Linked DNA regions of Homo sapiens. The protein of the gene in region 2 purifies or fractionates together with the protein of the main gene of each other region. This does not show direct contact. Each region holds a gene or a part of one and is shown on either strand. Other genes may lie near its edges. The genes, in order: HP1BP3, H1-8, NMNAT1 and LLPH.

Evidence for each region.
Region 1: the proteins of H1-8 (region 2) and HP1BP3 purify together in Homo sapiens (affinity purification with mass spectrometry; one large-scale study listed by BioGRID and IntAct). This does not show direct contact.
Region 3: the proteins of H1-8 (region 2) and NMNAT1 purify together in Homo sapiens (affinity purification with mass spectrometry; one large-scale study listed by BioGRID and IntAct). This does not show direct contact.
Region 4: the proteins of H1-8 (region 2) and LLPH purify together in Homo sapiens (affinity purification with mass spectrometry; one large-scale study listed by BioGRID and IntAct). This does not show direct contact.

The regions. Positions count from the first base shown.
Region 1 is NC_000001.11:20,770,308-20,773,807, reverse strand, and holds part of HP1BP3 (heterochromatin protein 1-binding protein 3), read left to right. Parts: intron 1-197; coding exon 198-357; intron 358-2,734; coding exon 2,735-2,878; intron 2,879-3,500. UniProt on the Homo sapiens protein: Component of heterochromatin that maintains heterochromatin integrity during G1/S progression and regulates the duration of G1 phase to critically influence cell proliferative capacity.
Region 2 is NC_000003.12:129,540,030-129,547,060, reverse strand, and holds the start of H1-8 (histone H1.8), read right to left. Parts: upstream 3,887-7,031; 5' UTR 3,843-3,886; coding exon 3,755-3,842; intron 1-3,754. UniProt on the Homo sapiens protein: May play a key role in the control of gene expression during oogenesis and early embryogenesis, presumably through the perturbation of chromatin structure. Essential for meiotic maturation of germinal vesicle-stage oocytes.
Region 3 is NC_000001.11:9,965,322-9,971,713, reverse strand, and holds part of NMNAT1 (nicotinamide/nicotinic acid mononucleotide adenylyltransferase 1), read right to left. Parts: intron 4,334-6,392; exon of another isoform or gene 4,256-4,333; intron 1-4,255.
Region 4 is NC_000012.12:66,122,620-66,129,011, forward strand, and holds part of LLPH (protein LLP homolog), read right to left. Parts: coding exon 6,277-6,392; intron 1,400-6,276; coding exon 1,221-1,399; 3' UTR 1-1,220. UniProt on the Homo sapiens protein: In hippocampal neurons, regulates dendritic and spine growth and synaptic transmission.

The DNA.
Region 1 (3,500 bases), on a different chromosome or scaffold from region 2:
ACCTTTTTAATTCATTTATAGTACCCAGTTTTTAAAGAAGATTTATTTTGTAAAATTTTGCTTATGGTACATGTCATCTTAGCCTGTAAATAAATTAAAGCATTAATTTTTATCCCTCCCTGGTCTTTTCCTCCTTCTGACTTTATACGTCTTTCTAGAGAGCTTATCTTCTATAATAACAATTCTTTGTTTTAAAGTGAGAAAGATCAGTCTAAAGAAAAGGAGAAGAAAGTGAAAAAAACAATTCCTTCCTGGGCTACCCTTTCTGCCAGCCAGCTAGCCAGGGCCCAGAAACAAACACCGATGGCTTCTTCCCCACGTCCCAAGATGGATGCAATCTTAACTGAGGCCATTAAGGCAAGTTTTTATTTCAAGCAATTCATCTTAGATTTATTATGTTCATTTTTTTCTTATTTGAAAATGGCATATATCTGTCTAGACATCATAAATCTTGTTCTGCTTCCTAAAGGAGTTTTAAAGAGAGGAAAGTCATTATAAGTTCATGTTTTTCTAATATAATCACATTTGGTGAACACTGTTAATTTTTTTAAAAAAATTATATTTAATATAGCAAATATTTTAACTTTAGAATTTTTAAATGCAGTTTATCGATTAAGTACAGTTTTTATTTGAAGGCTGAAAATGTTAATTCATTGAACAAACATTTAAGGACTACCTTCCTCTGTTGGGCGCCCCTGCTAGTGGTGAATTAACTAAGGCTAGCAAAGTCCTTGCCCTTATAAATCTAATTGTGACTCAGTAACTGAAAAATATTGAGAATTTTTGTTTAAAAAATATCTCTAGGTTCATTTCTAAAGCTAAGTGATCTTGGTAGTGGTTATCTTTCACACCTGAACCCTGTTAATAAACACTGCTTTATTACCTAGACATTCCAAAATGCTTACAAAAATTATCCTCCTTACATAGATTTATGATTTCATTGACTTTCATTAGATGTAGTTTTCCTATTTTAATTTTTAAAGGTTATCTTCTAATTTGACATTGCCTTTATTGTATAAGTCTTTTCATTTAATTTTGCCTTGTTTAGTTCATATGATCAGATGATAAGAGGAGTTAGAACAGACCCATCTTTCAGGGACCCTGTTGTTAGGATCTGAGGCAGGACTGGGGAGACAGGGATACAGATGATTTTAACCAGAAAAGGGGGGATGTGTACGAAAAGGAGCAGCCTGGTTGTCATTCTCAGAATATGAGAAGATAGCACTAACACATAAACTGGAAAAAGGGTTTGCCTTCAGACTTCTCCCTTTACTCCTTCAAGACTTCTTATGCTCTCACCTCATTAAGAAAACTTTATTGGTCTAGATTACCTCACTGTAGTGAAATCTCTGTTCTTTGTATAGCCTTTCTTCAAGGATTTCACTTGATGACCACTCAGCCTGGGTTTGAAGGAGCAGCATCATAGTGAGGATGGAAAAAGGGCTGAAACTTTAAAATAGTGAAATAAAAAATTAAAACAATATCAATTTGGCTTAAAGAATGGTTTGAATATAATTGTGCATATTTATGGAGATGATTGATTTTATATAGATAATGTGTATTCCATGCAATATGACAAATTATTGTTTCAGACCATGGATACCATTTTCTGTATTGAACAGGAATCATGATGTCTACTACCATCTCACTGTCGGATTGGTGGAGCAAAAGATTATTTGTTTCAGCATTAGTGTTCTTTTCTGCTTGATTTTCTTTGCTCTGTGTTTTCTTTTAAGATCAGGAGTAAACCTCAGTAGGTCATTAATAGTTCAGAGACATAGACTTGAATTACATGACCCATATTAATACAACTTGTTTCGTGTTGTGCAATCTTTTCTGGACCATCTACCTGTGAGTTATTTTTCTTTGTTGTCAAAATGTATAAAAACATTCAACGAAGTTCTTATCCAATGAGAATGAATAAGTGCTACATTGATTTAATAGACACTGTGGCAGTACAAAATTGATGGACTAGCTCATTAGATAAATGACAGATGCTACTTTTGTGTGTTTCAAAATTTAAAGTATTTGATTTCAAGTCAGTGACCAGTTGGAAAACAAAATTTTAAGCATTTGAAAAAAATTAAGTATTTGCTGCCTTTGTGACATAATGAGCTACTTAATTCTTCCAGGTGCATTAGTCAAATGGAGTATAAGTAAAATAGGATGGAAATGGAAGAGGGCACATTAAATTCAAATAGAACACCTTCACTATTACCCAAAACTCTCCTTCAGCACTTTGCCATCTGTAAACCCATTTTTATGCCACTTATTCAGATTATCTTTGATTCTTCTTTCTGCTGACATTCATACAGAGCCTTCAGGGAAATGTCCTGGCATGCTCATTCCTTAAGCTCGTGCCTTAAAATGGGACAGATCTGTGATCCTGTAAGTGATAGGTTTGTTCTGCTTTTCTCATTTTGATGCCAAAGATTCATCTTCTAAATACAGAATGGAATTAAAATGGAAAGAGGTTCTTCATTATACATAGAATGTTGTTCGTGTTCAGTATGGTCTCTTAGGCTGTTTTGAACAATTTAAAATTGTAGTAGAAATATTTAGTAATTCTGTTACTTCTCTGTAGTCATTATGAACTGAAGTCTTCTGAAGTTCATTCTTCCCTACCGTTTTTGTCATCTATCATCAAATTCACTTCCAAAATAATTTATTTTGAAAATATATGTCAGGCTCTATCTAATAAAAAAAAACAACTAGTTTAATAAATCTTTTCTAGGCATGCTTCCAGAAGAGTGGTGCATCAGTGGTTGCTATTCGAAAATACATCATCCATAAGTATCCTTCTCTGGAGCTGGAGAGAAGGGGTTATCTCCTTAAACAAGCACTGAAAAGAGAATTAAATAGAGGAGTCATCAAACAGGTATTACACAATTGTTAGTAGTAAGATCATTTCATTGTGTATTAGCTTTAAGTCTACAGTTAGTAACATTTAGGCTTTTTGTGCCTTTTTTGTTAAAAATAAGTTTCATGATGATGAAATTCCTTAAGTTTAACCTAGTTGAATTATCTGAGGCTAGGTTTCGAAAATGCTGGTGCCATTAAGATAGTGTAACTTTTTTCTAGCTTACTTTGCTCTTAATTGGATATTTTTTGGGGGGCTGCTTGTGCTTGAAATCATGTAGCACTGAACATGAAAAAGAGGTAAGGAATCCTACTACTGAAACAGCAAAAATGAGGCTAGGGATGGTGGCCTACACCTGTAGTCCCAGCACCTTGGGAGGCTTAGTTGGGAGGATCACTTGAGCCCAGGAGTTCGAGACCAGCCTGGGCAACATAGCAAGACCCCTTCTCTACAAAAAATACAAAATCAGCAGGGTTTGGTGACACATGCCTCTAGTCCCAGGTACTTGGAAGGCAGAGGCAGGAGGACCGCTTGAGCCTGGGAGGTTGAGGCTATTGTGAGTTACGATCTCACCACTCCAGCCTCGGTGAGAGTGAGACCCTGTCTGAAAACAAAAAGGAATAACAGAAATAATAATTGC
Region 2 (7,031 bases):
ATACCTGGCTGATTTTTGTATTTTTAGTAGAGACAAGGTTTCACCATGTTGGCCAGGCTGGTCTTGAACTCCTGACCTCATGACCCACCCGCCTCGGCCTCCCAAAGTGCTGGGATTACAGGCTTGAGCCACCGTGCCCAGCCAAATCTCTCTTTTTAAAGAATGGAGTATTCCTTTAGAAAAACAATCTAAATTGGGTGAATTTCGTAACTGTGGGTTTACAGGACCTCCGGGGGCTATGTGCACATTCTCAGAGGCACCCAGACTGAGAGACTCTCCAGGGCACACAGCCGGGTTTCTTCCACAAATAAGGGGGGAAAGAAAAAGTGGGAGGGGCACCCTATGGACTAAAGGTCCTTAGGAAACCTCTCAACCAAATGCTCATTCCCAGAGCAGGATTTGAACAATCCAACTGGAAAAAGAAAGGCAACAGATAAATGTGAGCACTGGAAGGAAATATCGGATATTAGGGATAATATTGTTTCAAGTGTGCTAATGGTATTACAATTGCTTTTTAAAAGGCTCTTATCTGTTAAAGGTAAATATTATAAAAGATATTTACAGATGAAATGATACATAAATCCAGCATTTGCTTTGAAATAACCCAGCAGATGAAACAAGAGTGTCCACAAGATGGTGACTGTTGGAGCTGGGTGACGGGTACAGTGGAAGGGAGTTACAGACCATTTGGTAGTCTACTTTTGTATCCATTTGAAAGTTTTTTGTTTTGTTTTATGGAGACAGGGTCTCAATCTGTCACCCAAGCTGGAGTGCAGTGCCACAATCATGGCTCACTGCAGCCTTGACCTCTCCAGCTCAAGTGATCCTCTTGCCTCAGTCTCCGAAGTAGCTGGGACCACAGGCACACACCACCACGCCTGGCTAATGTTTGTATTATTATCATTATTATTATTATTATTATTATTATTATTATTATTGTTATTGTTATTTGACACAGGTCTCACTACATTGCTCAGTTTAGTCTCAAACTCCTGAGTTCAAGCTATCTTCCCACCTCAGTCTCCCAAAGTGCTAGGATTACAAGCATGAGCCACCATGCTCGGCCCTGAAAGTTTTCATAATAAAAAGTTACCAAAAAATTCCACTCTTCGGTATATACCTGAGGGAAATGAAAACGCATGTCCACACAAAAATGTACACATGAATGTTCATAGCAGCACTATTCATGTCGGCCCAAAGATGGAACCAGCCCAAACATCCATGATGAATGATTGACAGATGGATGAACAAAATGTGGTCGCTACCCATCCCGTGGAATATTATCCAGCCATACAAAGGAGTGAAGCCCTGGCTACGACATGGAGGAGCCCTGAAACATGCAAAGTGAAAAAAGGCAGTCAGAAAAAGCCACATACTGTCTGATTCCATTTATATGAAATGTCCAGAATAAGAAGTCCATAGATGCAGAAAGCAGATTGGTGGTTGCCAGGGCTGGGGAGTGGGGGTGGAGAGTGACTGCTAATGGGTACTGGTTTTCTTGAAGTGATGAAAATATTCTAAAATTGATTATAGAGATGGATACACAACTCTGAGTATACCAAAAGCCATTGTACACTTTAAAGGGTGAATTGTATTGTATGGGAATTATTTCTCAATAAGGTGTTATAAAATAGTTGCAAATGAAGTGGGATCAAGGGTGGGGGAAGCATGAGAAGTTGTCAGTCACCATGAAATGCATAAAAGGGATTTAAATATGAAACCGGATTTAAATGTGGTGAATGGAAATGTTGATTTCTGATCAATCTGCAGAATTTAAAGACTTAAATTCTGGGCAATATCGTGAGACCTCGACTCTACGAAAATCTTTAAAAATGAGCAGAGTGTGGTGGTGTGTGCCTATAGGCCTAGCTACTTGGGAGGCTGAGGTGGGAAGATTGCTTGAGCCTGGGAAGTGGAGACTGCAGTGAGCTGAGATCACACCACTGCACTCCAGCCTGGGTGACAAAGCAAGACCCTGTCTCAAAAAAAAAAAAAAAATTGGCTATATTAAAATTTTTTTTCAATAGAAAAAAAAAACCATGAAACTCTAGATCTAGAGCAAAATTATAAAGAGACCTAATCACTTCGACCCCTGTTGGGTCCTGGCCATGACGAGCCCAGTGTGGGAATATTCATTTGGGGGCCAAAGGCGTTGAGCTGGTGTAGTCCTGGGTCACTCCCGGGTTCTCGGGAGTTTCATTCTTCCCTCTAGGCCTCAGTCTTCCCATCCGTACAGTGGGGACGGGGGCCTCTAAGGAGGTCTGAGCCCTCCCAGCTGCAGTGCTACAGGGCTTCCCAAGGGTCTTCGCTTGGCCTGACTTCACGAGCAGCTCCAACCCCTCCTCTGCTTCCCCCAGACCATGTCTGTCCCAGAGAGCCACCCCCAGGAGTCCTCCCTCAGGTCTGTTCCCTCTCATCCCAGCCCCTCATTCGGCAGCTATTCCATGCCTGCTGTATACCAGGATGTCCAGAACAGAGCTCAGCCCCCCAAATCTGCCCCTCCTCTCTCTTCCAGGAATGCCCCATGCCCCCACTGCCCATACCTACCCAACATCCAAGCAAGAACTGGGGGCATTCTGGGCCCTTTCCTCCTCACCACACCCACTCGAGGCCTCCCCATAGGCTTTTCTCTCCATATTCTGGCCTCTCCTCTCCAACTCCCCAGCCCCAGCCTCCTCCCCACTGCCTCTTCCCCACCGCATGCATTCTCCTCGCTGTATCTCACACCCCTCACCTCCCTGCTTGAAACCGTCCATGGCTCCCTGTTCAAGATAAAAGTTGACCTAACTGAAGACCGCCTTGGAGGCCCTCCCACTGCTCCCCTAGCACTGCCCCAGCACTTCCCTCCTTCCCAGAAGGAAGATGCAGCTTCCGAGACAAGCTGCTGGTGCGCTGGCCTCTGGGCCTTAGCCCATGCCGTTTCCTCTGCCTGGGCTGCCTCTCTCCTCCCGGTCATGCAGGCTGCTCTCACTCATCCTTCAAGGCTCAAAATGCACCTTGGTTTGGACACCTCTGACTTCCCAGTTAACTCTGCCCTTTTACTTCTCGGCACCTGGACCCCCTCCCTATCTCCCTAGGTGTCTTGGCAAATAGAACACTTCCCCCGGCTGAGGCACACCCATCCTTCAGGGTCACCTCTTCTAGGAAGCTTTCCCTGACCTCCCAGAGTGGGTTAGAGGACTCCTCTGGGCTCCTCCAGCTCTGGATTACCGCCACTGAAGCACACATCACATTAGCAAACAGCAACAAGCCATGGGCCAGGCTTCCCCATCAGACCGGGAGGTCCTCGAGGGAGTGAACTGGGCCTGGTTTGCCTCGGTGCACCCTCATGTCCAGATAAACCCTGAGGTGTTTTTTGGTTGAAAATCGGAATGCCTAGCCCTGCATAAAATGCTCCTGCCCCAGTCCCTCCAACTAGCTGCCCACAGCTGCAGCCTGGCTACGGGCTACGGTCCCAGCAGGAAACGGGCTCCAGCTGGAAGGCCCTGTGGCTCTTCCCTGAGCGAGGCCGGCCCCAGCCCCCAGGCCCTACCTGGCCTTGCTACCTGTAGATCAGCTCTTCAGCCAAAAGGCAGTTGAGCTCAGCAGCTTGGTGCTGGGTGGGTGCTGGGTGAGTGCTGGGTGAGTGCTGGGTGGGTGCTGGGTAGGTGCTGGGGCCAGGCTGGGAAAGAACGAGAAGCAGGGGTGGAGCATCAAAGGCAACCCAGGGAGTGGGCTCGCAGGGATGAGGGAGGAGCTGCCTCCTCTTGCTCACCTGGCTTTTCAGATTCAGGAGACCTGGATGATCCTGCTGTGGAAGTCGAGGAGGGTGAGATGTCGCTGGTGACGCTCCCAGGAGCCATGAGACCGACAGGTGCAGCCAGCAGACCCCTCACCCGGGTGTGAGGCTGCTGGGCCTGCCCACTAGGCTTATATACCAGCAGCCCACCCCCACCACTCCAATCAGCCCTGATTGGGCTGGGAGTGCTCCAAGCTGCTGACTGGGGCTGGAGGTGTGGAATGGGGCACAGCATCCTGCCTTCTGTAGGGAGCCCCAGCTGGACTACCCACTCCTGTGTAAGCTTGGGGGTGTCGCTTGACTTCTCTGGGTCTCAGTCCCCATGGTGCAATGTTGGGAGCTGAGATGCTTGATCTCGCCTGTGCCCTCTGCCCACCAGGGGCTGGAGATGCTGATGAGGAATTGGGGTCACCTGTGTTGTCAGGGAGGCCGCTGAGGCGGCCCTCTAATCCTACCAGGTGGGCAATGGGCTGCCCCACGCCACTGCTGGCCTCAATTTCTCAAAAAGTAGCAGTTGGAGGCAGCCCAACTGCTACTTTTGCCCAGAGCACATGCCCCTCAATCAGAGTAGCCCCTTCTGAGGCCAGCCAGGCTCTCTGGGCCTATGCCCTCCTTTGGTTTTGTTTTTAAAGAAATAAATCAATAACGGAGGATGCTTCACAAAAGTCTTCATAGATAAGGACAACATCCACTGGGACAATGGACAAAGAATATAAACAGGCAATTCACCAGCCTAAAGGGTGAGGAACAGAAACAGGAAAATGGACACTCAACTTCCTTGGCATTTGAGAAAATTCAAATTGAAACAATGGTGAAATACTACTTTTTCCCATCAAATTGACAGACAAAAAAAAAAAACTTTCCAAGCAAACACCCAAGGCCTGGCTAAATCACACCCTTTCTGCAGAATATTCTGCAGCCATCTAAAATGACAAGGTGGGCTGGTGCGGTGGCTCAGGCCTGTAATCCTAGCACTTTGGGAGGCTGAGGTGGGCGGATCACCTGAGGTCAGGAGTTTGAGACCAGCCTGGCCAACATGGTAAAACTTCATCTCTACTAAAAATACAAAATTAGCTGGGCGTGGTGGTGTGCACCTGTAGTCCCAGCTACTTGGGAGGCTGAGGCAGGAGAATCACTTGAACCTGGGAGCTGGAGACTGCAGTGAACCAGGATCGAGCCATTGCACTCCAGCCTGGGCAACAAGAGCGAAACTGTGTCTCAAAAATAAGTAAATAAAAATAAAATAAAATAATATAATATAATATAAAATGACAAGATGGATTAAAACAAGGATGAGAGGCCAGGCATGGTGGCTCATACCTGTAATCCCAGAACTTCGGGAGGCTGAGGCAGGAGGATCGCTTGAGCCCAGGAGTTCAAGACCAGCCTAGGCAAAAAAGTGAAATCCTGTCTCTACCAAAAAATACAAAAATTAGCTGGGCATGGTGGTGTGCACCTGTAGTCCCAGCTACCTGGGAGGCCGAGGCAGGAGGATTGCTTGAGCCTGGGAGGTCAAGGCTGCAGGGAGCTGTGATCACACCCCTGCACTCCAGCCTGGGCTACAGAGTAAGACCCTGCCCCCCCCAAAAAAAAGGGGGAGGGAAAGAAAAGAAAACAAACAAGAATGAGGCTGTATTTCACACTCAGCAAAATGACAAAGATGTAAGTGTCTATCAATAGTGAGTGACTAGGATTCAAGGAAAGTATAGCTGCTGGGGGGTGGGGAGTGAGCTGGTAGCCGCCTTAGAAAGCAATTCAGCGATGTTTCATACAACTAAGGAGGGACTCACTCCACAACCCACCTATTCCACTCTAGGCGTAGATCTGAGACAAACATATACACTTACGTGCAAAGATGTTTATTTCAATCTTAGCAGAAATTCAAAACAACATAAATGCCCATCAGGTGGAGAGTGAACAAGTAAACTGTGGCCTATTCGCACAGTGGAGTAGTATGCAGTAGTGAAAAGGAGTGAACCAGAATGTATCGGAGAGTACACCCCAACTACTGAGAAGACAAAACTTGCGTGTGTGTGTGTGTGTGTGTGTGTGTGTGTGAAGGCACAATAGTTCTTTTTAATTTTTAAAAAATTTTTTTGTTTTTTTATCTTACCAGTCACAAGCAGTAGAAAAAAGTTCTGAATGGATTCATACCAAGGTAATAGTAGAAGTGGTTACCTCTGAGGAAGGGATGGGTTTTAAACAGCATACATTCTTCTCTAGGTAGTCTCTTTATTGTGGAATTTTCCCAGAGGGCTCTCCATCACCAGAGATCTGGACTCGGGGAGGCTGTGGTCATCAAAGTGTTCTAAAGTGAAGTCAGATTTCACTCCCCCGCTTAGCATCCTGCATGGCTCCCCACTGCCCGTGGGTGAAAGTTCATGCTCTTCAGTCTGACTTAAGGAGCCTCCTCCCCGCTTGAATCCCACAATTCACCCACACTGCGGCTCCTGGAATGGGCCATGTGCTGATATCGGGCCCCTTTTGTCTCCTCTGTGTGTGTTGAATTGATGCAGAACTGCCCCCAATTTTTCACTCCTGCCCATTTGCAATGTAACTTTGCAACCCCTCTCACATTTCTTGTTTGTTTGTTTGTTTTTTGAGACAGGGTTCCACTCTGTCGCCCAGGCTGGAGTGCAGTGGTGCAATCATAGCTCACTGCAGCCTCGACCTTCTGGGCTCAAGTGATCTCCTACTTCAGTCTTCCAAGTGGCTAGGACTCAGGCACATGCCACTATGCCTGGCTAATTAAAAAAAAAATATATATATATATATATATATATATATATATATATATATATATATATATATATACACACACACATACATATATATATGTGTATATATATGTATGTATATATATTAGAAATGGAGTCTTGCCATGTTGCCCAGGCTGGTCTTGAACTCCTGGCCTCAAGTGACCTCCCACCTGGCCTCCCAAAGTGTAGGGATTACAGGCATGAGCCACTGCACCTGGCCCCTCCCACATTTCTTAAGTCTGAGTGGATTCCTTAAATCTTATGACTTGCTTTGACCAATAGCAGAAATGATGGTATGCCAGTCCCATTGCCATGTTAACTAGCTCCTAGCTAGCCTGCCAGATGCTGAGGCCTATGGCCATCACCCCTGTTACCCAGCCATCTGAGGGTCAACCAGCCAGTCCCCAGCCAACCCTCCAGTTGACCACAGATGCTTGAATGAACCCAGCCGAAATTGACCAAGCTTGGTTCAGATCAGCAGATCTGCCTGGCTG
Region 3 (6,392 bases), on a different chromosome or scaffold from region 2:
TGGGATTACAAGCATGAGTCACCACGCCCAGCCCAGTTATAGGTCTTTTGATGTCCTTCCACATTCTCATTCCCAATAGATGGATTAAAAGTATTTGGCTTTGGCTGGGCGTGGTGGCTCACACATGTAATCCCAGCACTTTGGGAGGCTGGGGCGGGTGGATCATGAGGTCAAGAGATCAAGACCATCCTGGCCAACATGGTAAAACCTCGTCTTTACAAAAAATACAAAAATTAGCTGGGTGTGGTGACAGGCACCTGTAATCCCAGCTACTTGGGAGGCTGAGGCAGGAGAATCACTTGAACCCAGGAGGCGGAGGTTGCAGTGAGCCGAGACTGTGCCACTGCACTCCAGCCTGGCGACAGAGAGAGACTCCATCTCAAAAAGAAAAAAAAAATTGGCTTCAATCATTATGCTAACTCTAAAAATGTTTCCACATCTCCATCCCTCCTTTTCAATGTGAATCTGCAACTTCTACCATGAAGAGATGGAAGTGACTTCTCCACATTTTTTGACTTGCTTTGGGCAAAAGAATGTGGCACAAGTGTTAGTGTGGAGGATGCCAGAACATGTGGGAGAGCACCGATGCTCCCACTGATAGACAACCACCCCACATGTGGGGAACATAGCCATCCCCGACCAGCCAACTACAGTCCATCTGCTCAGACACATAAGCAAACCCAAGTGAGATCAACCAAACCTGGCTCAGATCGTCAAGCCAACAAGCTGACCCTAGTCTCAAAAACAAAAAATTAGTGTTCATTATCATATGTCACTCAAGTTTTGTGATTGCACTATTGTGGCCACAGTTAATTAATACAACAATATTATCATCTACCAAATACAGCATTTTTGCCTTTTAGTCAACATGATAGTAACATCATAACTTTCCACTAAATAATAGAATATAATTTACAAACCTCTTTTTCATATCAGTTATTCCACTGATCCTTCCATAACCCTAATGAAGTAACATAAGGCATCCAATTTTAGGTTTTTATTAAAATTTCTTTTTTTTTTTTTTGAGACGGGAGTCTCACTCTGTTGCCCAGGCTGGAGTGCATTGGCGCGATCTCAGCTCACTGCAAGCTCCGCCTCCCAGGTTCACACCATTCTTCTGCCTCAGCCTCCCGAGTAGCTGGGATTACAGGTGCCTGCCACCACACCTGCCTAATTTTTTGTATTTTTAGTAGAGACGGGGTTTCATCATGTTAGATGGTCTTCATCTCCTGACCTTGTGATCCGCCTGCCTCAGCTTCCCAAAGTGCTGGGATTACAGGCGTGAGCCACTGCGCCTGGCCTAAAATTTCTTATTCAACTAATTCATATATATAGATCTAGAACATCACAGGGTAAAAAAGGCCCTTAATGAAAACCAACAGCCATCAATCATATTCCACTCATCATCCCTTCCATCCAACCACTTTTAACTTTTTCAGCTATTTCTTCTGGTAGTTTCTACCATAACTCTACATTATGTGCTTATAATGCCATTTCTTAATTTATCCAACTATAACAGTGCCCATTGACTTTATGATCTATAAAGATTAGCCCTCATACCCTTTGACTACCTTCTCCCAAACTGCCCAATATAGTTTATCTCCAGACTATGTTGAAAATCATCTTCTCTCACAACTTCAAAGGCATTACTTCTAGATTCCAATGTTAATAGCATGAAATCCAAAGCCACTTCTAATTCCGGAGCTTTTGAATGTCATTTTTTTCCTGTCTTGAAGCATGTAAGGTCTTCTCTTTGTCCGCAGTGTTCTGAAATTTCACAGTGCTGTCCTCTAGTGCAGCTTTGTTTCTATCCATCATGCTGAGCACAGGGCAAGCAGGTCCTTTCAGTCTGGAAACTTGTAACATTCAGTTCTAGAAAATGTCCTTGAGTTCTTTCATTGATGATTTTCTGCCTCCCATTTTATCTGTTCTTTTGAAATGTCTATTATTTATTTATTTTTTTGAGACAGAGTCTCCCTCTCTCACCCAGGCTGGAGTGCAGTGGCACGATCTCAGCTCACTGCAACCTCCACCTCCCAGGTTCAAGCAATTCTCCTGCCTCAGCCTCCCAAGTAGCTGGGACTACAGGCATGCACCACCACACCCAGATAACTTTTGAATTTTTAGTAGAGATGGGTTTCACCATGTTAGCTAGGCTGGTCTCGAACTCCTGGCCTCAAGTGATCCACCCACCTCAGCCGCCCATGAACCACTGTGCCTGGCCTGAAAATGTCTATTATTTAGAGCTGAAGCATCTAATCATTTTTTCTGTATTTTCCACCTCCTGCCTTCATGCTCTAATTTCCTGATAGCCTCAACTTCATCCTCCAATCTGCCTAGTTTTCACTTCTGCCATTACACTCTTAATTTCCAAGAGCCCTATCCTCTGAATACTCCTGTTTATGGTATTCTACTCATTTCCCCAACAGATTATCATCTCTATTTCTCTACCAATATTCATGATATATTTTAAAGTTTCTTCAAAAAGAGCTGATGGGACAGGCTGAGTGGGTAGGTAGGGCTTGTGCACAGGGGCCATAACTGTTCAGTAACCTGTCAGTACCGCAGGTCTTTTTGCTTGGATTAGTCAGACTCTACAAGAAAGTATCCTACAATTTCCCGCCTATATAACAGAAGAGTTAAGAGCCTATGCTCTGATATTAGGCTGCCTGGCTTCAAATTGCAGCTCCAACGGCATGACCTTGGGCAACCTAACCCTAACTTAACCTTCCTTTTGTGCCAGGTTTTTTCTTTGGCTTTTTTTTTTTTTTTTTGAGACAGAGTCTCGCTCTGTCACCCAGGCTGGGGTGCAGTGGTACGATCTCAGCTCACTGCAACCTCTGCCTTCCAGGTTCAAGCAATCCTCCCTGCTTCAGCCTCCCAAGTAGCTGGGATTACAGGCACGTGCCACCACACCTGGCTAATTTTTTTTTTTTTTTTTTTGAGACAGAGTCTCGCCCTGTCGCCCAGGCTGGAGTGCAGTGGCATGATCTCGACTCACTGCAAGCTCCGCCTACTGGGTTCATGCCATTCTCCTGCCTCAGCCTCCCGAGTAGCTGGGACTATAGGTGCCCGCCACCACTCCTGGCTAATTATTTTTTGTATTTTTAGTACAGACGGGGTTTCACCATGTTAGCCAGGATGGTCTTGATCTCCTGACCTTAAGTGATCCACCTGCCTCGGCCTCCCAGAGTATTGGCATTACAGGCATGAGCCACAGTGCCCACCTTGTCCCAGTTTTTAATCAATCTTAAAAAGGAGAAAATAATACTACCTACCTCCTGATTGTTGTGAGGATTAAATGAAACAATACAGATCCAAGACATAGAACTACATTTGGCAGGCCAGGCGCGGCGGCTCACGCCTGTAATCCCAGCACTTTGGGAGGCCAAGATGGGCAGATCACGAGGTCAGGAGATCGAGACCACCCTGGCTAACATGGTGAAACCCCATCTCTACTAAAAACACAAAAAAATTAGCCAGGCGTGGTGGCGGGCACCTGTAGTCCCAGCTACTCGGGAGGCTGAGGCAGGAGAACGGCGTGAACCCAGGAGGCGGAGCTTGCAGCAAGCCAAGATCGTGCCACTGCACTCCAGCCTGGGCAACAGAGCGAGACTCCATCTCAAAAAAAAACAAAAAAAAAAACTACATTTGGCAAATAGCAAACATGCTATGAATATAGCTATTATGAATGTTGCAAATTATGTTACTAGAATTGTCTTTTGTTTTTTGATTTTTGAGACAGTATCTCACTCTGTTGTCCAGGCTGGAGTACAGTGGTACAATCTCAGCTCACTGCAACCTCCATCTCCCAGGCTCAAGTGATCCTTCGACCTCAGCCTCCCAAGCAGCTGGGACTACAGGCATGCACTGGCTAATTGTTTTTTTGTATTTTTTGTAGAGATGGGGTTTTGCCATATTGCCCAGGCTGGTCTCAAACTCCTGGGCTCAGAATCTCGAAGCGAACCTGTCCACTTTGGCCAATTCCAAAGTGCTGGGCTTACAGGTATGAGCCACTGTGCTCAGCAAGCAATTTTTTTTTTAATCAACAAAACATCAATTTCAAATGGTTTAATTTACAATTGCTATTCTATTCAATCTGTTTTTTTCCCAGAGGATTTTCTTTCTGGAACTCTCCTCCTCTTATCCAGATGAAAAATCTCTATTTGTGAAGCTATTATTCTGAAAACTTCTTCATCTCTTTCCTGGGTTAGATCCCCTATTTATTTCTCGCTTTGCTTTCTAATCTTTCTGGAGCGTATCCTCAAGCGTTTCATGATAAAGGGTTGATCTCTCATACACCCTTTATCATGAAACTACTTGAGAATATGCTCCAGTAGGATTCGTGGGAGATCAAGTAAGTTTGATAGGCGCATGGGAGATCAAGTAAGTTCGACGATGTTGTTATTCTTCCTTCAATTATTAATGGCTTGAGAAAATTCTTTTCAACTCAATAATTTCAAATAATTTTTTTTTTGCGGGGAGCCGGGGGGACTTAGTTTCACTCTGTCACCCAGGCTGGAGTGCAGTGGAAAGATCTTGGCTCACTGCAACCTCTGCCTCCCAGGTTTAAGCAATTCTCCTGCCTCACCCTCCTGAGTAGCTGGGATTATAGATGCCTGCCAACATGCCCAGCTAATTTTTGTATTTTTAGTAGACACAGGGTTTCACCACTTTGGCCAGGTTGGTCTTGAACTCCTGACCTCAGGTGATCTGCCCGCCACGGCCTTTTAAAGTGTTGGGATTACAGGCTCGAGCCACTGTGCCCAGCCCAAATAATTTTTGAAATTATTCTTTTAAGATTATAAAGGCACTTCTTCATTGTTTGCTGGCATTCAACATTGCTGTTGAAAGTCTGAGGTCATTCTAATCCTTGTTCCTTTATGTGTAACCTGCTTTTACTTTCTAGAAGATGTGTAGTATATTATCTTATCCCTAGTACTCTGGAATGCCCAGTGATGACAGTATCTTTTTCATTCATTGTACAGAACCTTTTAAATGCTGCCTACTAGTTTTCAACAAGTTAAAAAAATAACTTTGCTATTGTAAAGGTTTTCAAATAAATATTTGTATATAATTATATATACATACTTTTTTTTTTGAGACTAAGTCTCACTCTGCTGCTCAGGCTGGAGTGCAGTGGCAAAATCTTGGCTCACTGCAATTTCCATCTCCTGGGTTCAAGCGATTCTCCTGCCTCAGCCTCCTGAGTAGCTAAGAATACAGGTGCCTGCCACCATGCCCAGCTAATTTTTGTATTTTTAGTAGAGATGGGGTTTCACCATGTTGGCTAGGCTGGTCTTGAACTCCTGACCTCAGGTGATCTGCCTGCCTCAGCCTCCCACAGCGTTGGGATTACAGGCGTGAGCCACCGCGCCCGGTCAATAATATTTATAAATAATTTCTTTCTGTTTTGAGATGGAGTCTCCCTCTGTTGCCCACGGTGGAGTGCAGTGGCACGATCTCAGCTCACTGCAGCCTCTGCCTCCCAGGTTACAGTGATTCTCCTGCCTCAGCCTCCCAAGTAGCTGGGACTACAGGCATGCCCCACCATGCCTGGCTAATTTTCGTATTTTTGGTAGAGACGGGGTTTCACCATGTTGGCCAGGCTGGTCTCAAACTCCTAACCTCAAGTGATCTGACTGCTTCAGCCTCCCGAAGTGTTGAGATTACAGGCGTGAGCCACCGTGCCCAGCCAAATACTTCTGAATAAAATTTTTTTTTTTGAGAAAGGATCTCGGTGTGTTGCCCAGGCTGGAGTCCAATGGCATGATCACAGGTCACTGCAGCCTCTGCCTCCTAGGCTCAAATGATCTTCCTGCCTCAGCCTCCAAGTAGCTGGGACCACAAGCACATGCCACCACACCTGGCTATATTTTTTAAATCTTTTGCAGAGACAGGGTCTCACTATGTTGTCAAGGTGGGTCTCAGATTCCTGGCCTCCTGCCTCAGCCTCTCAAAGGGATTACAGGCATGAGCTACTGTGCTTGGACTTCAAAATAAATATTCTTGGCCAGGTGCGGTTGCTCACACCTGTAATCCCAGCACTTTGGGAGGTCAAAGCAGAGAGATCGCTTGAGGTCAGGAGTTCAAGACCAGCTTGACCAACATGGTGAAACCCCATCTCTACCAAAAATACAAAAATTAGCGAGTGTGGTGGCGCACACATGTAATCCCAGGTACTTGGGAGGCTGAGGCAGGAGAATCACTTGAACCTGGCAGGCAGGGGTTGCAGTGAGCCGAGACTGCACCACTGCACTCCAGCCTGGGTGACAGAGCGAGACTCTGTCTCAAAATAACAACAATAATATAAAAATTAAAAAGTAATAAATATTCTTATATATCCAAAGAATGTCTTAAAAATAATCATTCTGAGATCTTTTTTTTTTTTT
Region 4 (6,392 bases), on a different chromosome or scaffold from region 2:
CAGATTTAACTAAAAATCATTTCTCAGAAAACTAGTTTCAAAGAGTAGACGCTAAACAGGTTTCTTTGCTGCTGGAACCCTGTAGGACTATTCTAATCCTAAACTAAAATCTTTTGTAAATCTTCAAGTATGTAGCATTTCCCAAATCGATGTGAACACAATTTATTTTTTTTAACCAAGCATCCAGAGGAAACTGATACTGAAGAACACACTCCGGGGAATGCTGCATGATACTATATTAGGCCACACAATATTAACACTAAAGAACATTAAATCAGTTTCCATGAAAAACCTGAAATGTTCTAATTTCCTAAAAAGCATACTGATTTGTATATGTTAATATTCTACCTAAAATTAAGATAAGAAAACATTTAATTGAAATCTGGTCTTCTCTAGGACTAAAAAACCTTAAGCATACATGAAAGAAAAAAAAATCAGACTTGAAGATCTACACACAAAATATCTTTTATTCTGTGGAATCAAAGCTCCACACAAGTACTTTATAAGATCCATTATTTTTTTTTTTTTTGAGACAGAGTCCTACTCCATTGCCCAGGGTGGAGTGCAGTGGGGCAATCTTGGCTCACTGCAACCTCCATCTCCTGGGTTCAAGCAATTATCCTGCCTCAGCCTCCCGAGTAGCTGGAACTACAGGTGCGCGCCCCCATGCCCGGCTAATTTTGTATTTTTAGTAGAGATGGGGTTTCACTGTATTAGCCAGGCTAGTCTCGAACTGACCTCGTGATCCACCTGCCTCGGCCTCCCAAAGTGCTGGGATTACAGGTGTGAGCCACCATGCCCAGCCCTAATGTAGTATTTTTAAATGATATGATTATACAACAACTTTCTTTAAAATCTAAGTTCACAAAAATTTGTCAGTACATCATCTGTTTTATCTCTATTGACTATAATTACCAGTTGTAAGAACAATTCTAACCATATTAATACCTGACAGAACGTTGAGGCCTGATTATAACTGGATATTGGGTAGCATCCAGTTAAAGTATCAGTAGAGCTTGGATGTATCAAAGAAAATATTTTATTCAAGTTCCCAAAACAAACTTGAGGAGTTATGCTGGGTTTGAATTGAAGAAAAAAGGCCAAGTTAAAATAGGAAAACAAATGGTTTTCATTTGGTGGCAGTTGAAATCAAAGTATACATGTGTATACATTCTAATCCGTCATCTATCCCATGTGGCATTTTCCAAGGTTTTAAGAGTCTACCAGGCCAAACCCTTTGCCACTTTCACTGCTTTTGCTTTGCTTTTCCCCTTTCTTTTCTCTCGCTTTGCCTTCAGCCTTTTTCTTTGCCTTTGGTTCATCCATATTGGGTACTGTCCATGCTGGTCTAGAAGAGTCTTTTTGTTTCTCTTAATATCAGTCTCCATTTTCATGTCATCTGCATAAAAAGATGGAAAAACTATTAACACCATGTATGAAAAAAACCACCCTGTGAAAGCATATTAATGCACTGAGAACATCAGAACATTAGAACTGAAGGTAGACCGAAAATAGAGAAGAAAAAAACTTTATAAAGAATGTTGGCATGACTGTCCTTCCTTAGAATAGTAATGTTAAATAGGAAACATTTAGGATGCATGGCTCTGAGTTAGTACATTAGTAGATATATGGTTCTGAGCACATGTGAGTTACAACAACATTTCTCATATTAAGTGATTCCTTGAGTTCAGTAAGCATACCTACACTTCTAAGGGATACACCTTAGATGTAATGAACTGATTAGGAATGACTGGCCATTTCTTAAGAACTTGAACTAAATTATAATGAACTGAGAACGAACTTCTAATGAACTCGATGGAGTAGTCAGCAGCAGGGTTGTAATGGCAGAGACAGGCACTCAACAGAGAAGACCTGGACACATCCTGGGGCTGGCATACTTTTCCTAGCTAGGTAACACCCAGAGATCCAGCTCTACTGATAGGAGACTTGGCAGGAAGCTCAGTGCAAACATGCTGTGGTACACCTATCACCTTCTCCACTGTGAAGGACATGCTCAGAGTCCCTCACTGGGACCTCCTTATCAGGATACACAAAGTCTTCTATTATCTCGACTACCTGGCATTATATTAGATATTTGCCATTGTTTCCACAGTATCTAGAATAGTGTCTGGTATATAACAGCCACTCAATAACTAGGTGTTGAATGATTATTTTAGGTGCTGTTCTAGTTTATGGGGATATAGTGGTCCATATGAACTCCTAGCCCTCACGGAGTTTACAGTGTTCTGTTGACGGGAGAATAACACAGCAAACAGAAAGAAAACCTCAGCCAGGTATAGTATCTATAGGCATTTGTAGTCTCAGCTATTCGGGAGACTGGGGTGGGAGGATCATTTGAGGCCAGGAGTTCAAGGATGTTGTGGGCTTGGTCACGCCTGTGAACAGCCACTATACTCCAGCCTGGGCAACAAAGTGAGATCCTGTCTCCCCGCAAAAAAAAGAACTGGTAGGCGCTGGTAAGAACATGTTAAGATAATGAGGTTTTTAAGCATGGCAGTGATATAAACTGATTTACCTTCTGAAAAGATCACACTGGTGGATATGTAGAAGATAAATGAGAAGGGAACAAGAGCGGAAGAGAGAAGTAAAAAGGCTCCTATAATAGTACAGGCAAGAGATGACGGCCTTCTGAATCAAGGTGAAAGCAGGAAAAAAATGGATACAGATTTCTAATGTATTTTTGGGACAATCAGTAAGACTTGCTAATGGTTTAGATGTGGGGAATAAAGGAAAGAGGAATCAAGGATGACTACTAGGTTTATGGCTTAAGAAATCAGGCAGGCAGTTGAAAGAGTAGAAATAAGGAAAAACATGAACTTGAGGGTAGAGATGAGAGCCAAATTGATAACAAATAGATTACTAAATGGGGAGACTCCCTCAGTCTCAGTCTCACCACCCTTTAGCTCCTAAAATATCTAAGAATAAGGGCATCCAGAATTCCCCAGGCAGGACATAAGATAATTTCTCTCTGGGGATGATGAGGAAAAAAAAAGACTTAACAGATTCTGATACAGGAGATCTCCGAATAAAACCTCCTGGAGCCATTCCAAATCTTCTATACATCTAGCAGTTGACAGACCCTCTCCCACACCTTGTCTCCCTCCAGCTTCCAATCATCATTGTAGTGCCACACTTTTAAATACAAACAATGACCACTGATCACCAGACATTTGAGAAAAGCTTCTAATATGAAAGAAAGAGACAAAAGTAAAGGAATGGAAGGGCTTGGGAGGGAATTCCAAGAGGAAAGACAGATAATACATACCATAAATAAAAATTTCAAAAGCAAATTGTAATTAATACCCTTAGGAGAAGATATATGCCCATTAAGAACACAGAGTTGATGACTCAAGGGGCATTTACAAAACACAAAGAACACAAAGCTATGAAAAAGGAACAGTAGGCCAGGCGCAGTGGCTCACGCCTGTAATCCCAGCACTTTGGGAGGCCGAGGCGGGTGGATCACGAGGTCAGGAGATCGAGACCATCCTGGCTAACATGGTGAAACCCCGTCTCCACTAAAAATACAAAAAATTAGCCGGGTGTGATCGCAGGCGCCTGTAGTCCCAGCTACTAGGGAGGCTGAGGCAGGAGAATGGCGCGAACCCGGGAGATGGAGCTTGCAGTGAGCCGAGATCATGCCACTGCACTCCAGCCTGGGCGACAGAGTGAGAGTTCATCTCAAAAAAAAAAAGTAAAAAAAAAAAGAAAAACTTTTAGAAATTAAAAATATAAGAGAAAACCAAGTAATAAGAACCAGAATTCAAGGTCAAGGAAATTAGAGGGTATAACAAAATAAATAGAAAACAGGAGAGAAAAGAAAACAGGATCAATCCAAAAGAATCAAGAGTGGATGTGGGCATCTGGTATCTAGAACATATAAAGAACTCTTAACAACCCGATAATAAAAAGACAAACAACGTAATTGAAAAACGAGGCAAAAGACTTGAGTAGACCTTTCTCCAAAAAGATAATACAAATGGTCAATCAGCATATGAAAAAATGTTCAGCCGGGTGTGGTGGCTCACACCTGTAATCCCAGCACTTTGGGAGGCTGAGGCAGGTGGATCACTTGAGGTCAGGAGTTCAAGACCAGCCTGGCCAACATGGTGAAACCCCAACCCTACTAAAAATGCAAAATTCAGCTGGGCATGGTGGCACACGCCTGTATTCCCAGCTACTTGGGAGTCTGAGGCAGGAGAATTGCTTGAACCTGGGAGGCAGAGGTTGTGGTGAGCCGAGATCATGCCACTGCACTCCAGCCTGGGCAACAGTAAGACTCCATCTCAAAAAAAAAAAACAAAAAACAAACAAACAAAAACCAAAAAACACTTCATTCAATGTCATTAGTCATTAGGAAACTTCAAATCAAAATTACAATGAGAATCTATTTCATACCCTCGAAGATGGCTATAATCCGAAAATGGAAAACAAGTATTAGTGAGGATGTGAAGAAACTCAAATACTCAAACACTGCAGGTGGGAATGTAAAATAGTGTGGCTGATGTGGAGAACATTAAAAAGAATTACCATATGACCCAGCAATTCCACTTATCAAACAAAACCTTGTGCACCTGAATGTTCACAGCAGCACTATTCACAACACCCATAAGGGGAAAGAAATCCAAATGCCCAGCAACCGTTGAATGGATATGAAACGTGGTACATGCAATGGACTATTATTTAGCCTTAAAAAGAAAGGAAGTACTGATATATGCTACAATGTGCGTGACCTTCAAAAGCACCATGCTAAGGGAAATAAGCCAGGCACAAAGGTCTCATTATATATGATTCCATTTATAAGAAATATTCAAAACAGGTAAATTCACACATGAAAAGAGCATATTAGTGGTTGCCAGAGGCTGGGGGTAGGAGGAGGAGAGACAGACTTCTTAATGGGTATTAAGTTTCCTTTTAGGGTGAGGAAAGTGTTTTGGAACTAGAGGTGATGGTTGCACAACATGAATGTACTAAATACCACTGAACTGTACACTTTAAAATGGTTAATTTTATGTTATGTGGATTTTGCCTTAACAACAACAAAAAAGAACCAATAGGGAGGGGTGATGTGTGTGTGAGGAAATGAAAACAGCAAGTGAAGGCAAGTGTTTCAAAAAGTTTCAAGGACAGCTGAAATAAAGCAGCAGATTGAGAGAACTTGAGATCAAGGGAGAAATTTTTCTTTCTTTCTTTTGACATTGAACATCCCAGAACACATCTATGCTGTTGGCAATGACCCAGTGGAGGAGACTGATAAGGCAGATGCATGAGTACAACCCCTGAGAATGTTAACGGTGGAGAGGATTCAGAACACAAGTGGAGAAACTGGCCTTGGAGAGAACATTAATAAAAAAGGGAAAACAGACTATACAACATTTGAATTCTTATAGACTTGGGTAGTGGAAAGATGAGGATATTTCTTGGTTGGCCCCTTTTTCTCACAGAAGTTGAAGTAAAATGCTTTTTGTAATTTTTATTCATACAGAGTGGGAGAAGGATGAAATGGGAAGAAGAAAAAGTTAAAAACAGCCATTTTTAAAGGGAAAAAACCCCCTAAGGTTGGGAGATTGAGAAATACTGCTCTTTTCCTTGGGCATAAGACATCAAATACATGTATTTCTATTTTAAAGTCTGGGTATTGCAAATACTTAATTTAGTTTGCTGCCAAATTGGTGCATTAAATGTGCAAAAAGCAGCATTATATATATATCCTCCAACTTCATGATTAAGACACAAAGGTTCCTAGAATCTGTCAAAATGAAATAGTGAAACCCTGTGATTTTCAGGATAATAGTATAAGGGCATAGGACTCATAGAATGGGAATTAGATCTTACAAAGAGTAAAATGAAGACCTATGCTGCCTAGGCCCTGAGTGAACTGTGTACCCTTCCAACCAGAGTATGCCTAGATTTGTCTACTCCTGTAGAACTGTTTATTCCTGAGACATGGAGGCTATTGTATAAGCACCAAAGACCCACTCTAAATAATCCAAAACATATGTATATACATGAACAGGCTTGACAGAATTTTTTTTGTTTTTAAATGAAGCGCAGAGGGGCTGGGCACTGTGGTTCATGCCTGTAACCCAGTGCTTTGGAAGGCTGAGGTGGGAAGAATCCGCTTCAGCTCAGGAATTCAAGGCTGCAGGAAGCTATAATCACACCACTGCACTCTAGCCTAGGTGACAGAGGAAGGAGACCCTGCCTCAAAAAAAAAAAAAAAAAAAGAGAAAGAAAAAGGAGAAGCACACTCACCTTTTTCATCTTTTACCTCACATTGCATTTTCTCTTGGCAATGTTTGGGTTTGGGTACCACCACAGTTGCTATCTCTTGAACATCTTTCATTAAAACATCACCGTCTAGTTTGAGA